2 linked regions of the Homo sapiens genome follow. Each later gene encodes a partner of the first gene's protein in a complex. Each region holds a gene or a part of one and is shown on either strand. Other genes may lie near its edges. A codon is read from its position in the direction of its gene.

Evidence for each region.
Region 2: the proteins of VGLL4 (region 1) and IRF2BP2 are in contact, whole or in part, in a crystal structure (PDB 8YTF), measured with the Homo sapiens proteins. Residues at the interface, in NP_055482.2 of Homo sapiens: Arg161, Ser163, Val164, Ile165, Thr166; in NP_892017.2 of Homo sapiens: Thr516 (codon at 177), His517 (codon at 174), Phe518 (codon at 171), Val519 (codon at 168), Gln520 (codon at 165), Pro522 (codon at 159), Phe531 (codon at 132), Leu557 (codon at 54), Trp564 (codon at 33), Ala565 (codon at 30), Phe566 (codon at 27), Met567 (codon at 24), Glu570 (codon at 15), Thr573 (codon at 6), Ile574 (codon at 3).

The regions. Positions count from the first base shown.
Region 1 is NC_000003.12:11,640,913-11,648,150, forward strand, and holds the start of VGLL4 (transcription cofactor vestigial-like protein 4), read right to left. Parts: upstream 3,004-7,238; 5' UTR 2,607-3,003; coding exon 2,525-2,606; intron 1-2,524. UniProt on the Homo sapiens protein: May act as a specific coactivator for the mammalian TEFs.
Region 2 is NC_000001.11:234,607,179-234,614,527, forward strand, and holds the start of IRF2BP2 (interferon regulatory factor 2-binding protein 2), read right to left. Parts: upstream 3,001-7,349; 5' UTR 2,317-3,000; coding exon 1,269-2,316; intron 675-1,268; coding exon 1-674. UniProt on the Homo sapiens protein: Acts as a transcriptional corepressor in a IRF2-dependent manner; this repression is not mediated by histone deacetylase activities. Represses the NFAT1-dependent transactivation of NFAT-responsive promoters.

The sequences.
Region 1 (7,238 bases):
TTTGAAACCAGCCTGCCCAACATGGTGAAACCCATCTCTATTAAAAATACAAAAATGGGCCGGGCATGGTGGCAGGCACCTGTAATCCCAGCTACTCAGGAGGCTGTGGCAGGAGAATGGCTTGAACCCGGGAGGCAGAGGTTGCAGTGAGCCAAGATCGCGCCATTGCACTCCAGCCTGGGGGACAAGAGCGAGACTTCATCACCAAAAAAAAAAAAAAAAAAAAGACCAGACACATGGTTTATTTTAGAGTAGAGCTATGTCTCATACAACTAAGGAATATGGTATAATTTAGCTGGTAAGAATAATTAACCATCCGCATCTTAATTTTTAAAACTAAAATGTCATAAAATTAATTTGTCCCTTATTCTTAAGGGGCATGAAACTTGACTGTGCCCTAAATGAAATCAAATGTTGCCTACCAACAGTACATTCCATTTTCCAAACAACTTCCCTGGAATGCTGGGGAGCTGATATGTTTAAAACGAATATTCTCCAAGTCCAAGTGTTGGATTTTAAAGAACCATAACCTTTCCAACTTTTCCTACAAAAAAATCCCGTGTGTGATTTATGCCCATCTTCAAAACACCCTCTGGAGTTCAGACCAGATGTGTGCAGTGTTTACACTGAGAAAACCACTAGGACATCAACAATTCACTATAAACACCACTCAAATTTTGCTGTGCTTTCCTTCATTTCCTCTGTATTTATTCTGGTGTTAAAATAATGTTAACTCTCATAATAAGGAAAATAGGAGCAGATGTTTAAACCAAACAGACTTCAGCCCATTATCCCATATAGCTACTCAATCTTCAAAATCAAAGTTTCTTCCTCCCAAATACCGAGAGAGAAGAGCAGAGCAGAGCACTCTAGTTTCCTGGGTGTTGCATGCTACACAACAACTCGACCTGGGCTCGCTGTCCGTAAGTTGGTCCTCACCAATCGGAGACAGGAAAAACTAATCTGGTATCAATTTCCTAACAATCTTATATTTCTCTCTTAGGCCATTATGTTTTGTTTTTAAAATATCGTATTACTTGTTGGCAAAGACAATACAACAGAAATTGCCTCAGAAGTTTTTCTTTCTTGTTGGGGGAAGCGGGGATGGTTAAAAAAAAAAAAAACAAGAAAAACAAAACCCTGACTACAATGTGTGAATGTCACGGGAAACAAGCCCAGCAATGGCTGCTTACGGCTTTCTAAAGTCGGCTGCCTTTTTTAAGTGAGTTCAGAAGCAAGATGTTACTTAACACATCAGATGCAAAGAAAGAAATTCACGAAAATTCTCATAGCAGGAACTAGTAGGAGTAAAGAAAAACAAATACTCTTTTTAAAAAACGTTAAATATGAGATCCTCATCCATAGAGTTTTAAAAAACAACGTGAATGAGGGTTGTTGTTGTTTTTTTTCCTTGAAGGGGAAAAATACTCTTGAAAGGGTGAGTTTTCAACTGATTAGGAAACAGGCCTGAAGTTTTTAGATTAAAAAAATACAAGTGAATCACCCTCCCAAGTTTTTGTAACTGTTTTCTTTTTCAAGAGAAATGTCCCGTGTATTATTGGAGAAAAAATGGAAACTGCTCCTGCTGAATGAGAAAGAGAAGAGTCCCGGATGTGTGTGTGGTTACAACAGAAAACACTCTTCCTGCCAGGCCGAACTCCCCCGGAGATGCCCTCGGCGGCAGACCCAGGGCCATTGCCACTTTTTCAAATCGCACGTAGAGGATGTCCGAGGGCTTAAGAAATAGATTTTTCTCTGACTGCTACCAGAGACAGTTGGAAATACAAGACAGTGGGGGAAGCACCTCGCGGGCAGTAGGAGGTAATAAATAACAGTTCGGCGCGGCTCTCTCTTTTTCAGGGCAGGCTGGGGGTCGGGGTGTTGTGTAATCGCTCCCACAGGGAGCGGAGCGCGAGGAACACCCCCCAGTGTCAGCGCTCCCCGGGCTGCACAGGAAGCGCCAGCGAGACAAAGAGCCCGCCTGTGCTCGCTGACACGGTGCCCTTCCGGCCCCACGCGGGAGAGGGACATTCTCCGCTGTTTGGGACGCTCACTCGCGAGCACAAAAACTCGCTGTAACTTTGGCTCCCCCTCCGTGAGCTGCAGGGCGCCGTGGCCCACAGCAGGGTACAGTAGACGGTGCAATCCTTACCAGCCCCTCCCCCAAAGAGGCTCAACTTTTACCGGCGTCCTACAAGTCCTTCCCCTAAAGACAATATTAACGGAAATCAAAAATACATACATTTTAAAGAGTTAAAAATGTGAGGCGCGAGTACGTTGCAAGCAACGAGCAAACTTTGAAGGGTTTCTACTTCACTGCCTCCCCGTCCAGCCCCCTCCACCGCCCCCCGCAGCCTGAGATCCGAACACACTCGGTGCCGAACCGAACCTAAGAAACGCCGGCCTTTCAAGTGCCCTACACCCCGGAGGAGGACAGCGGGCGCTTAGAAGGCAGGCACCCAGCACACTGAGGAGGAGTGGCCGGGACGAGCAACGGGCAGTAATTCTACAACGGGACATCTACCTTCGTAGCACAGAATGCCGATATTGTTGTTCATCTTGTCCAAGTACTGATAGTTCAACAGGTCCATCTTCATAAATAGCATTTATTGGGCTAGCAAAGAAAACCAGCTCTTTGCTTTTGCCCCAAAAGAGTTAAGTTTCAAAAATCAATTGTTGCTGAGTAGCTCCTGGCTCTTCAACTTCACAAAGGCAGAGGCCCAGCCTCAGACTATCAAAACAAAGTATGCAAAAGTTAAAAAAAAAAAAATCAGGCACAAAAAAATCGAGCTCACACGAAACCCTTCAAGGGCTTACTGGTAGACGGTGTATGTACTGTATCCCCGATCGAGTATGAAAACAGCGTTTCAGAAGTCCTTACAAGTCCTTCCTGGAAATGGAAAAGAGTGAAAAAGAGAAACGCGCAGCCCGTTTCCTAGGACAAAGCGGCGCCGGCCCCTCTCACAGCCCGCTGCAAGCCGGCAGCGCTGACATGAGGGCTATGCTTGGCATGACTCCTATGCCGCCGCTTCCTCTTCCCGCAGGAGGCCGAGCATGCTCACTGCGCCGCGCTGCCGAGGCAGGGAGGGCTTCTGCACAGGATCAGCCTCTCAATGTAGCAAGTGTTGGAAAGAAAGAGAAAGGGGAGGGGGAGAGACTCTAGAGACGGGGCCTTGGCAGAGTGGCTCTTGACAGGAAGCAGCCAAGCCGCTGCAAAACCGTAGGAGGAAAAAAGAAAACCCAGGAAGTTTCTTTTTCAGGAGCTAAGTACAAAGTAAAAAATCCATCATGGAAGCAAACTCCCATGGAATGCAACTTTCGTGAAACTTCATGTTGGGGTTTCGGAAACCCAAAGTGCTAGTGATGCATAAGCCATATATATATATATAGTGTCTTTGTTTCTTTTAAAGATTGTTTTATAATATCCATTTACACTTTAACTGGATATTTAAATTTCTGATGTTAATGTTACATATAGCTTCTTCCATAATCCCCATAACAACTGAGATGGACAGGGCAAGGAGGGTATCACCCTTTCACAGCAGAGGAAACAGGTTCAGATGGATTAAATGACTGGCCCACAGCCCCCAAAATAGTTGACAGAACTACTTTTAAAGTGTTTTTTCCCACCTAATGTTATAATTTTATTTAAAAAAACGAGGGGGCCGGGTGTAGTGGCTCACACCTGTAATCCTAGTCGAAGCAGGCGGATCACTTGAGGTCAAGAGTTCAAGACCAGCCTGGCCAGCATGGTGAAACCCCATCTCTACTAAAAATACATAAATTAGCCTGGTGTGGTAGCGCACGCCTGTAGTCCCAGCTACTCAGGAGGCTGAGGTGGGAGAATTGCTTGAACCTGAGAGGAGGAGGATGCAGTGAGCCAAGATCGTGACACTGCACTCCAGCCTGGGCAACAGAGTGAGACTTTGTCTCAAAAAAAAAAAAAAAAAAGAAAAGAAAAAAAGGAGACAAGGAGAGGAGAAGAGATGGAAGAGTGTTTAAGCAAATAGGGCTATAATATCAAAAATTAAAAGTGTACTTGAAATTATAGAGGGAAAGGGTAAAATTATTTTCATTTGGCATGTATGTCACCCACCTGTGTGTAAGAAGCTAGTGGCATGCAGCTGTACTATTTGCTATTGGAAGAACTTGGGGCTTAAACTTTGATTACCCAGTGCCTAGCACAACCAAGTTCAGGTGCCCAAAAACTGTTTACTGAACGAGTGAACCACTGAATGTTCAGTTTTCAGCACATCAAGAACGTGTTAACAAAATAGAAAAAAAAAAAACAAAAACTAAACATTTGAATTACTATTCTAAAAATATATTTTTAATATTCCAAAATAATATTTGAATAAATAATTTGAAGGAGTTGTATGTTAAAAATCCAGCAATAGGCCAGGCGCGGTGGCTCACGCCTGTAATCCCAGCACTTTGGGAGGCCGAGGCGGGTGGATCATGAGGTCAGGAGATCGAGACCATCCTGGCTAACACGGTGAAACCCCGTCTCTACTAAAAATACAGAAAATTAGCCGGGCGCGGTGGCGGGCGCCTGTAGTCCCAGCTACTCGGGAGGCTGAGGCAGGAGAATGGCGTGAACCCGGGAAGCGGAGCTTGCAGTGAGCCAAGATTGCGCCACTGCAGTCTGCAGTCCGCAGTCCGGCCTGGGCGACAGAGCGAGACTCCGTCTCAAAAAAAAAAAAAAATCCAGCAATAGTTGCATTGGGTTTATTAGGCACACTCATGGCAAGGTGTTCTAATGAAATCTTACTTGGGAGTCCGGATGCGGTGGCTCACGCGTGTAATCCCAGCACTCTGGGAGACTGAGACGGGCGGATCACTTGAGGTCAGGAGTTTGAGAACAGTCTGGCCAACATGGTGAAACCCTGTCTCTACTAAAAATACAAAAATTAGCCGGGCATAGTGGCATGTGTCTGTAATCCCAGCTACTAGGGAGGCTGAGGCAGGAGAATTGTTTGAACACGGGAGGCAGAGGCTGCAGTGAGCCAAGATTGTGCCACTGCACTCCAGCCTGGGTGACAGAACAAGACTCCGTCTCAAAAAACAAAACAAAACAAAAAAACTATATGACATCTAAATACTAAATACTGTTGCCGTCATTGCTGCAACAGTAATCACTGGGGTGACATCAGGGGAAGTAAGTAATAGGGGAATCAAGATTTCACAAGCTTTCATTTATAAGAATATTTATTGACACTATATTACATGTAATAAGCTATAGTGAAAGATATGTATCCTATCAATTGTAATTAAAATACTTAATGGTATTTGGTGGGGAGGGTTGAAGAAAACTCAAAACTCGTAACATCCAGTATACATGAGATCATTGCACTGAAAACAAACAATATCAGGTATCAGATTTAAATTTAACTGATAGTTTTGGAGTACTCTTACTGTGCTACGTTTTTACATAAATTCTCAATCAGAAAACTTTATCCATCATTGTCCCACATGGAAGAGAGGTGGCTGCACATTAGAACCAGGGGGGAGCTTTTAAAAATCTTGCTGCTGAGGTTGCATCCCCAACTCATCTGAGGTGGGAACCAGCAGCAGTAGCTTCTAAAGTCCCAGGTGATTCCAATATGCAGTCAAGGTTGAGAACCATTGCTTTCATCTAGGGAGGAAAAAAAAAAAAACCCTGCCTTAAGATATTTCATTTTATTCACTTATTTTGACATGAAGAATTTTTTTAATAGTAATTTAAGCAAATGATTCAAACAATACCATTGTAGAAAATGAATAAAATATTTGGTAACGTCCCTTAAGGGACTCAGCATCACTTAGAACAGCAGTTCTCAGCCTCCGGGTGGCAACCATTTTCGTGGACACCGTCTCACAGGTCTACCTTGACTATTGTAACATTCCCAGCCACAGCCACCACGTCTTTCCCGCTGATCCGGGAGGCTAGCACGGTGCTACCCAAGTGTGATCCAGAGGGGTTCGAGCACCAGGTGTTCCTAGTCCCCAAAAGCTAGATACAGAAACGGAGAATGAACATTTAAAACTTTTATAGCAATTCGATAGACTAATTTTATGTCTCTCAAATCTTAATATTAAAGAAATTTGAGGGCTGTAGTTTTCGTATTTCTAGTTATAGGGCTGCATTACATTTTATAAACTATCAGTCTGCAACAAAGTCTTGGGGAAAAATGAAACAAACCTGGTTTCACAGAGAAGCTTGTGCTCCAGAGGGGCCAGCTACAACAGCCCGCCTCTGCAGGCTGGGAGCGCCTCCTGGACCGGCTCTAGGCCTTTCCATCCCAGCTCCTGACAACTTTCACCTTAGTTTCAAGCACACTGGATGACCTGCAGTGAGTTATTCCACAAAGCACATCAGTATGCTTCTCGGTGTGCAGGACGTCTCTTCTTTCCCAACCTGTCTACTCAGCAAACATCCACTCTTCCTTGAGACTTGTCAGAAAGCCCCTCTTGTCCTGTGAAATCTCCCTACGATCCCATCCTACCATCTCCTCACACCCTACGCCAAGCTATCCTTTTACAGGGTAAGTAGTCCTTATCCAAAATACTTGGACCAGAAGTGTTTTGGATTTCGGACCTTCTTGGATTTTGGAATAGTTGCATTATACTTACCAGTTGAGCATCTCTAATTTTAAAGTCTGAAATCTGAAATGCTCCAATATGAGCATTTTCACCTGAATGTTGTGTCAGCACTCAACACTGTTCAGATTTTGGAGCATTTTTCATTTCAGATTTTTGGATTAGGACGCTCAACCCATACCTTATATGTGCTTCTTTCCTAGCCTAGATCTTCGGAGCAAGGACTATGCCTTCCTCACCTTTTCGAGGTCAGTCTGGCAGAAGTCTGGCAGAAGCCTGGCGCATGGTAGGCCATCAATAAATACCAGCTGAATAAAATCAGTAAACATCTAAACGGCAGATTCTTCATTTCCCCATCCCTACTTCCAGCACACTCTGGATTATCTTACTCGATGTCATTAGGTGGCTGTCAACATCTCTTGGAGACCACAGGTCCTTGCCTTTAAGAAACACCATGTAGATTCTGATTGTACTTCAGGGTACAATCAGCTCATCCATAAAAAAAAAAAAATACTAGAAAATATCAATCCTTCTCAGATTCATTCATAGGATAATATATTCATAATTAAAGTAGCAACAGGATAGTTTTGTAGGGAATTGGAAAGATGGGTCTAAATTTTATCCACACACACAAATGAGATGGGAAAAGCTAGTTCTTT
Region 2 (7,349 bases), on another chromosome or scaffold:
GATGGTTGCAATTTCCCCTTGCATAAAGGCCCAGGGGACATTGGAGCCCACAAGAGGGCATTTTTCCCCACTGGGACAATAGACCTCTCCACTAGCTCCCTGCTGTTTGATGCTTTGTCTGGAGCAAGGGAAGCAGAACTTGTGCGAAGGGACGGACGGGCACTGCACAAAATGGGTGTCCTCCAGCCGCTCGTGGCAGAGGGTGCAGCACAGCGGGGCACTGGTTGCCAGAGAGGAGTCCGGGAGGCTGGCAGGGTGCACTGGCTCCAGTCCTCCTGTGTTGCCTGCTCCCTGGCCCCCCACCTCTCTGGGGCCCAGCCTTCTTTGGTTCATAGAGGACGGAGAGGGCGGACTGTTGCTATTCCTCCTGGTAGTGGAGTGAACCTGGTTGGCATCTTTTGAGGCATGACTGCCCCCTGCATTGTCTGCTACTAAGATCAGGGCTGCCATGGGGGACTGGCCATTCTGGGCCGCTTCAGGCGGTGTGGTCCGGTTGGAATGAGGTGAGGCAGTGGGTGGTGGCGGAGACACAAAAGAGGATGTAGGAGTCATGGGGATCTTGAGCCCCTCTGTGGATGTGGACAGCCACGGCTGGGCCTCTCCGTTGATCTTAGGGGGCCCGACTTCACCTTCTGGTTCTGGAGAGGGCTTCCTTTTCCTTGCTGTTCTTGCAACTGGAAACACAAAGAAATAAAAGGAAAAAGGTAACATAAGTGGCGGTGCACTGAAAGAGATCATTCTCTTCCTAACCCGAAACAAAAGTCGTTACAGAATTCCTCCTCTCTAAAAGCACAGACAGAAAATACTCATATACGAGTTTCAGGTGCACATGCAACTTAAAACCTTCAGGCGTACGGGATTCTGAGGCAGCAGACTGATTTAAAATGGAGCCACTGAAAATGACACGCTTGTAACTGCCTGTTTGTACACATGCACAAAAGTACCCTCGTTTGCACTCAACATGTGACTGCTAATGTCCCCCAATAGGTTAAAAGGTGACTGGTGCCCTCATGCTCCCATCCAAGAATGTGCTGGGAAAGGAAAACCCCGTGTCAGAGCGTATCAGCCCAGTCTGACTCATCTCTGTTATGCTGCTTCAGCACATGAACACGTTGCCACCAAGCACTGGTTCCGCCTCAGGCAGATCAGGAAGTGGGGTGTTTGTTGTTTCTGGGCTGGGGTAAAATGGTGAATCCAAAGAACCACCCTTCCTCTGCTCTCCGTCCCCTTTTCTCCCCTAGACCCCCTCACTTCACAGCCGCCCCTACCTGCTTTAGACCCGTTGGCCCCGTTGGCCTCGAAACCCAACAACCTGCCTGCAGTCAGGGCCGGCTCCTTCTTAAACTTGCTCTCGAAGGGCCCCGAGTGGCCGTGCTGGTGCAGCGCCAGCAGCGTGTCGCGCACGGTCTTGGGCCTGTTGACCCAGTCCTGCTCTCCAGACCCGCGGCTCTTGCCCGCACCTTCCGCGCTCAGCTCGGCGGCCCCGGCCGCGGTGGACAGGCTGTCGGCCGGGCCCCGGTGCGCAGGCGGCGGCGGTTGTTTCTCCTTGGCTGCCGCCTCACGCTGCTCGTGCTCCACGGCAGCGCTGCTCGACACGGATGCCGGCCGCTTGTGGGCGCCCAGATCGGTGGGCTGCGCGGAGCCCAGGCTGGCGGCCGCGGTTCCGGACACCGCGGCTAAGGAGGCGGCAGCGCGGCCGCCGAGGCCGAGCGCGGTGGGCAGCGGCGTGGCCGAGCCGTTCATGAGCGGCACCAGGGTGGGCGGCACCGCGTGGCCGCGCCGCGGGTTCGGGCTCTGGCGATTCAGCTCGGGCGGCTCCTCTAGCTTGGAGAAGCCGTTGGGCACCAGGATGCCGTTCACGGGCGGCGGCTGCGGCGTCGGCGGCTGGGCCAGGCTCGCTGCCGGGCGGCTGCTGCCGAAGTCAGAGCCGAGGCGCGGGGGCCTCTCGGCCGCGGCCGCCAACGGGTAGCGCTCCAAGGCCTGCGGCGCGCGCGGGGCCGCCTCGGGGCCGCCGTGGCCAAGCTGCTGCTGCTGCTGCAAAAGGATGTCCTTGGCGGAGAGCGGCGGCGGCTTGGCGGCGGCCGAGGCCGCGGCGCCGGGTGGGGAGCGACCCTCCGGGAAGCAGCCGTGCGCCCGCTTGAGCTGCCGCGCCGTCTCGATGACGAACTCGACGCGGTCGGCGCCCTCGTAGTTGACGCAGCCGCGGCAGACGGGTTCGGTGAAGTCCCAGATCATGGCCCAGGGCATGCGGGGCAGGTCACACAGGTAGCACGACTGCCGCCGGGACGCGGCCGCCACCGCCACCGCCGCGGCCATGTCCGAGGAGCCCGCGACGCCGGAGGAGGAGGCGGAGGAGGAGGAGGGGGCGCCGCCGCCGCCCCCCACCGGCACCACGCGCGCCCTCCTCCCCCCCCAACCCCGCGTCTCCCCCACCAGCGGCGGCGGCGGCCGCAAAGGCGGCGGCGGCGGCGGCAAAGCCCGCGAAGGCTCGGCGCCCGCGCAGCGCCCCCGGTGCACGAGGGGCGGCGGGCGCGAGGTGAGGGGCTGCAGCCGCGGCAGCAGTTCCCCCCGGCCGGCCCGGGCACGGGCGGGCGGCGCGGCGCGGCGGGGCGGCGGGCGCGGCGGTGGGGGCTCGGCCGGAGCCGCGGCGGGCCTCCAGACCGGGGCGAAGACGGGCCGCGCGGGCGCGGGGGAGCGCAGCAGGTCGCGGCGGCGGCCGGCACGGAGTGCGGGGCGGGGGGCGGGGAGGCCGGGGGGGCAGGGGGCGGGGGGCGGCCGCCGGGGCAGGCTCAGCCCGAGCGGCGGGGCATGCCGCGCCGGGGTGGCGGCGGCCGGGCGGCGTGGAGCTCGGGCGCGGCGCGGGCCCCGGGTCGCTCCGCCGCTCTCTCACAGCTCCTGGCGTCGCCGCTCTCCAGCGCCAGCGTCAGCGGCCAGCCCGCCTCAGCTCCGCCGCCGCCACCGTCGCTGCTGCTGCTGCCGCCGCGACCGCTCCACTTCTACAGACTTGATTCTTCGACAGTCTCGCACGGCGCCTGCGCGGGCCCCCTCCCCTCGTGCGCGTGCCCGCCCTCCCGCGCGCGCGCTCCCCCTCCCCCCGCGCGCCGAAGGAGCGCTGCCGGGAGAGCCGGCTACGCGGCGCCCGCCCGCCCGCGGGGCAGCGCAGCAGCGCAGCGCCGGTGTTCCCTTCGGAACACCGCGCAAAGTGATCGAGTGCTTTTCCTCCACTTTCCCTCACTTCGCGCCCCACCCGGCTGTCCCGACCACCCTCAGGATGTTTTCCTCTGGTGTGCCTCTGGGCCAAATCGTGCTAAAAATCATTTTTTTTCTTTTATGCAAGGACACTTTGTCACTTGGTTTCCGTCAGTCTCCTGAGAATGGGGAATTTAGGTCTAGCGTGGTTCACAGTTCTGGTTTTTTAGGAGTTATACTTGAAAGCTCAATGTCGGACACATAGCATGAAATCCGTCACTGGTGCTTTGCATTTGTCTTGGAAAGGACATACGCCCCGCCTGTCCCTTTTACTAACTAGGGAGACTGTGAATATTCCCAAGCCCAGCACCACGTGCACACGCCGCCAGCTGGCTCGCGCGTTTTCCACGGAGCCCTCTGGAGGGGAGGGAGCGCGGTTCGGACTAGCCTCTCCCGAACACCAAGTGCCGCTCTTAGCCCCGTCCAGCCCGCCCTGTTCATCGGGGGCCTCGCCGCGCCAGTCGCCCCGGCTGCCTTATGTAGGTATGCGCGGCGGGCGCGTGACGTGGGCGCGGGGCCGTGGGCGGCCGCCGCCGCGAGTGCGCACGCTCCGCGCAGACGTGCCTCGGCGCCGCTGGCACTAGGGCCTCGTGGAACGAATGCACATTCCAGGGATCCGGGGTCTACGGCCAGCGCGGCCGCGTCACAGCGCAGGCTCCACCCCCTTCGGCGAGTCTGGGCGTCGAGGCGCCGCCCCCGGGCCCGAACTTGGACTCGAGGTGGCGGGAGGCGAGGGCGCGAGTGGGGGGGGGGGGGGTCCTGCTCGCCTCCGCGAGGTTCCCGAGGGCCGTGGGGGCGACCGGCTGGCTGGCTGGCCCGCCGTCCCGCAGGGCGGGCCGCCGACGGAGGCGGACTTTTGCCCTATATGCCACCCAGGCCGGGATGAGCCCGGCCTGCAGGTCTGCCACCGTTGGCAGCCTCAGACTCAGCCCAGACTGAATTGAATGTTTGAGTTTCGCACTTTTATCGGGAGGAGGAGCTAGTGTGTGTTATGGTAAATCACTTTGGGCTGGTCGTTAGTCTCCCTAATACACGTAGGCTTAGTCGCTCTTCAATTGGGACTTTTACACTTAAGCTCTTTAAGGGCGGCCTCTGGAGCTGCTTTTGTTGGGAACACAGGCCCACAACTCTCCCTTGAGACTGGAATGAGCTGGTTAAGTGTGGGAAGAACAGGGTACTAATTATATTATCTTTCCTACAACTGGATTGGTAGGTGGAGAGAAAAAAAAAATCATGCTGACGTTTCTCTCTAGTCGTTGCTATTGAAAATACCAGGTTGCTTCAAAGGATTAACCACAAGGAAGAGGAAAAACACCCTTAGAGAAACAGTGGAGGGAGCTGCTTAAAACACATGAAAAAACCTGTTCGAAAATGGCACAGAAAACGTAATGTCAGACCTAAATGTTTTTACAGGCTAACCTTGAATGTCTTTTGGGGATTTCCATAGAAGGTGCGCCTGTTTTAAAGGTCTCTGCATCTGTTCCTGGATCTTGCCCTGCAATTGCAATCCTGCCTCACCCTCTCCAAGCTGGGAGAATGGGGCCTGTCCAGATCCTTCCCGGGAGTAGCTGGTGCCAGCGGGTTTGGTCACTCCCAGGCCCTGCTGTTGCACACCGCTTTCAAGACCTGTCCCTTTGGTCACCCTCCTCAGAGACCCTGTGACACTCATTCCAGTACATGCCTTCACCCACTGCGTCACTGCCCAAAGGGGATGAAGTCCAGTCCTTGTGCTGCAGAGAAATGAACCAACTCATCGCCCCCAAGAGACGGCCCCACTAAGCATTGACTGAAACATACTAAAAGAAAACACAACTCACCATTAGAGTTGTGGCCTAATTATACTCATTTCTCTGCAAGCTGGTACTGTAATGGCCTCAAGGGGAGAGCCTGCCACTCCATCCTAAAATAGAATTAGAGATAGAAATTCTGCCACGATACTAAGATCTTTGCAAAACGGAGCTTTTCTTCTCCAAAGGAAGAGCATTTCCTTCTTATTTTACACTGCCAGTTTCATGTCGAAACTGAGTTGTTGTAACTTCCCTAATGAAATGCCCGATGGAAAATGGAAGGGCTATTTTAGTTCTGGGCTCGATCCGGAATCAAGGGGGTTAAGGCTGGATTCAGGGCAGCAATTCCTTATATTGTATCAGAAGTCTTTCATGCAGCCTGGCCTTTCATGTAGCTCTGAAGCAGCTTTATCGATGTATGCTAAGTAAACATAGCTTTGTTTTTGTCTTCCACCCACCGCTCCCTCCCGGCACAGACTGGAGTTGGATCCCATCCAAAGCGGCTGCTGCAGCAGTTACAGCCGCCTCCTCCACACACAGGAGCAGGGTTTCTAGGGTGAGGCAATGCGTCTGCAATTCGCAGAGACAAGGCAGGAATTGTAATTGTAGTTCATCATGTGATGACTTATGAAAGAGGAAGTTGGTATGTTTTAGTCACGTAGACTCTGCCCTCTTGCTTGAGGCACCAGGTCCTCTCAAAAGAGAATTATGATCATCTTTGCCACCCAGAGTCAAGGTTACCGGGTTGGCTGCAGTGTGCTCCTGCACATTCATATACGGACAGGCAGGCAGATGCTGGGCCAAGTGTCGGCGACGCAGCGGGATGAGGCTGGCTTTTCACCAGAACACTAAAATGTTGCAATTTGTCTTAAGGACTAAAGGAAATATTCTATGGAGAACACTCCTGCTGAGACTAGACAAACCAACAGTCCTTTCCAGCTCTAATTTCTGAGAGTTGTTTTTTTTTTTAAATAAAAATCACAGTGTAGGAGTAAAAGGAAAGCCATTCAGTATGACACTATCAGAAAAGCAGGAATAAGGAAGTGGCTTGGAAGGCAAACCTAAGAGAGCAGTTGTAAGCGATAGCTCAATGGGTAGAACTAATGTGACCTTCCGACACTGAGATTGAAACGGGCTTCTACTGCGTGAACGTTAAACATCTAAAATCTGAATCTGGTTTCCAGAGCTTACTCCAGTCAAGCAGCTATTAACACACGGAAGCCCTGAACTGACAGTCTATAGAGCAGTGTAAAGAAACGGTTCCTACAAGAGTACCTTATTGGAACTTTGCCCCCAGGTTATGCAGCTGCAAGAGGGGTGCAACCCCATTCCCCCAGCAGCTTGTGGGTGCTGTCCAGGAGATAGATGGTATTCCTAGGAACTGCTGAGTTCGTGGCTTTCACCCTCTATCCAGAGGTGGAATCACAGCCTTCATTCTTTAGAGTGCAGTTTCCTTAAATAGCATGATGTTGCAACCATGCTAAAGCTTCTTAAACTCTGATCTTGGCGTATTTGAAGAAGAGAAAAAATGCAGCCACATTTCATCTGGATTTCTGTGGACATCATTGCGGGTTTCTTCAGCTTTGGCAAAAGTGTCGTAAGGTTTGAAGAGCACACGTGATATTCAGGGCTTTTCCAATTTTTTAAATAAGTTATATATATTTGAACACATTTGTTTATATGAATATATCTACACATACTATGGAGCACCATGACATAAATGAACCTTCTGTAATTGATATGAGAGTCTTCCTTCTTAGTAACAGCATTTTATGAGACAATCTTACTGTTTTTCAAATTGCAAATATTCTTTTTTAGAAATACTTTCCCTCTGTTTGACCTCTCTCTATAGCCTACCTCCCCTGTGCACAGAGCATACAGATATTAAAGAGACTTTTGCATGTGGAGGAGATAAACTCTCTGTGGAGGGTCTAAGAATCAAGCCAGATAAAATCACAGGAGCTCTTAATCATCCACATATTGTACACAGAAGCTGTTAGTCGGCAGCCTATATGTCAACGTATGTATAGGTCCCTATTTAGAGCAAAATTTGGGATCTTGATGAAGGTTAAATACTCACTGTGTCAGAATTTAAAGAGCTAAGTGAGAAACAGACAAAATAGACAAAGGAGAGATTGAGGTCACACACTTGCTCAGTCTGCAAGGAAATTTGTAGAACTGGAAGGGATTCAACAGCCATTTGATGCCAGTAAACCTCCTATTGACTTTTTGGAAAAAGCAGGATGAAATGCACTTTTCTGGAATATCTGGATGTGGGTTTAACTTAGAATATTTAAAACACTCACTGAAGCC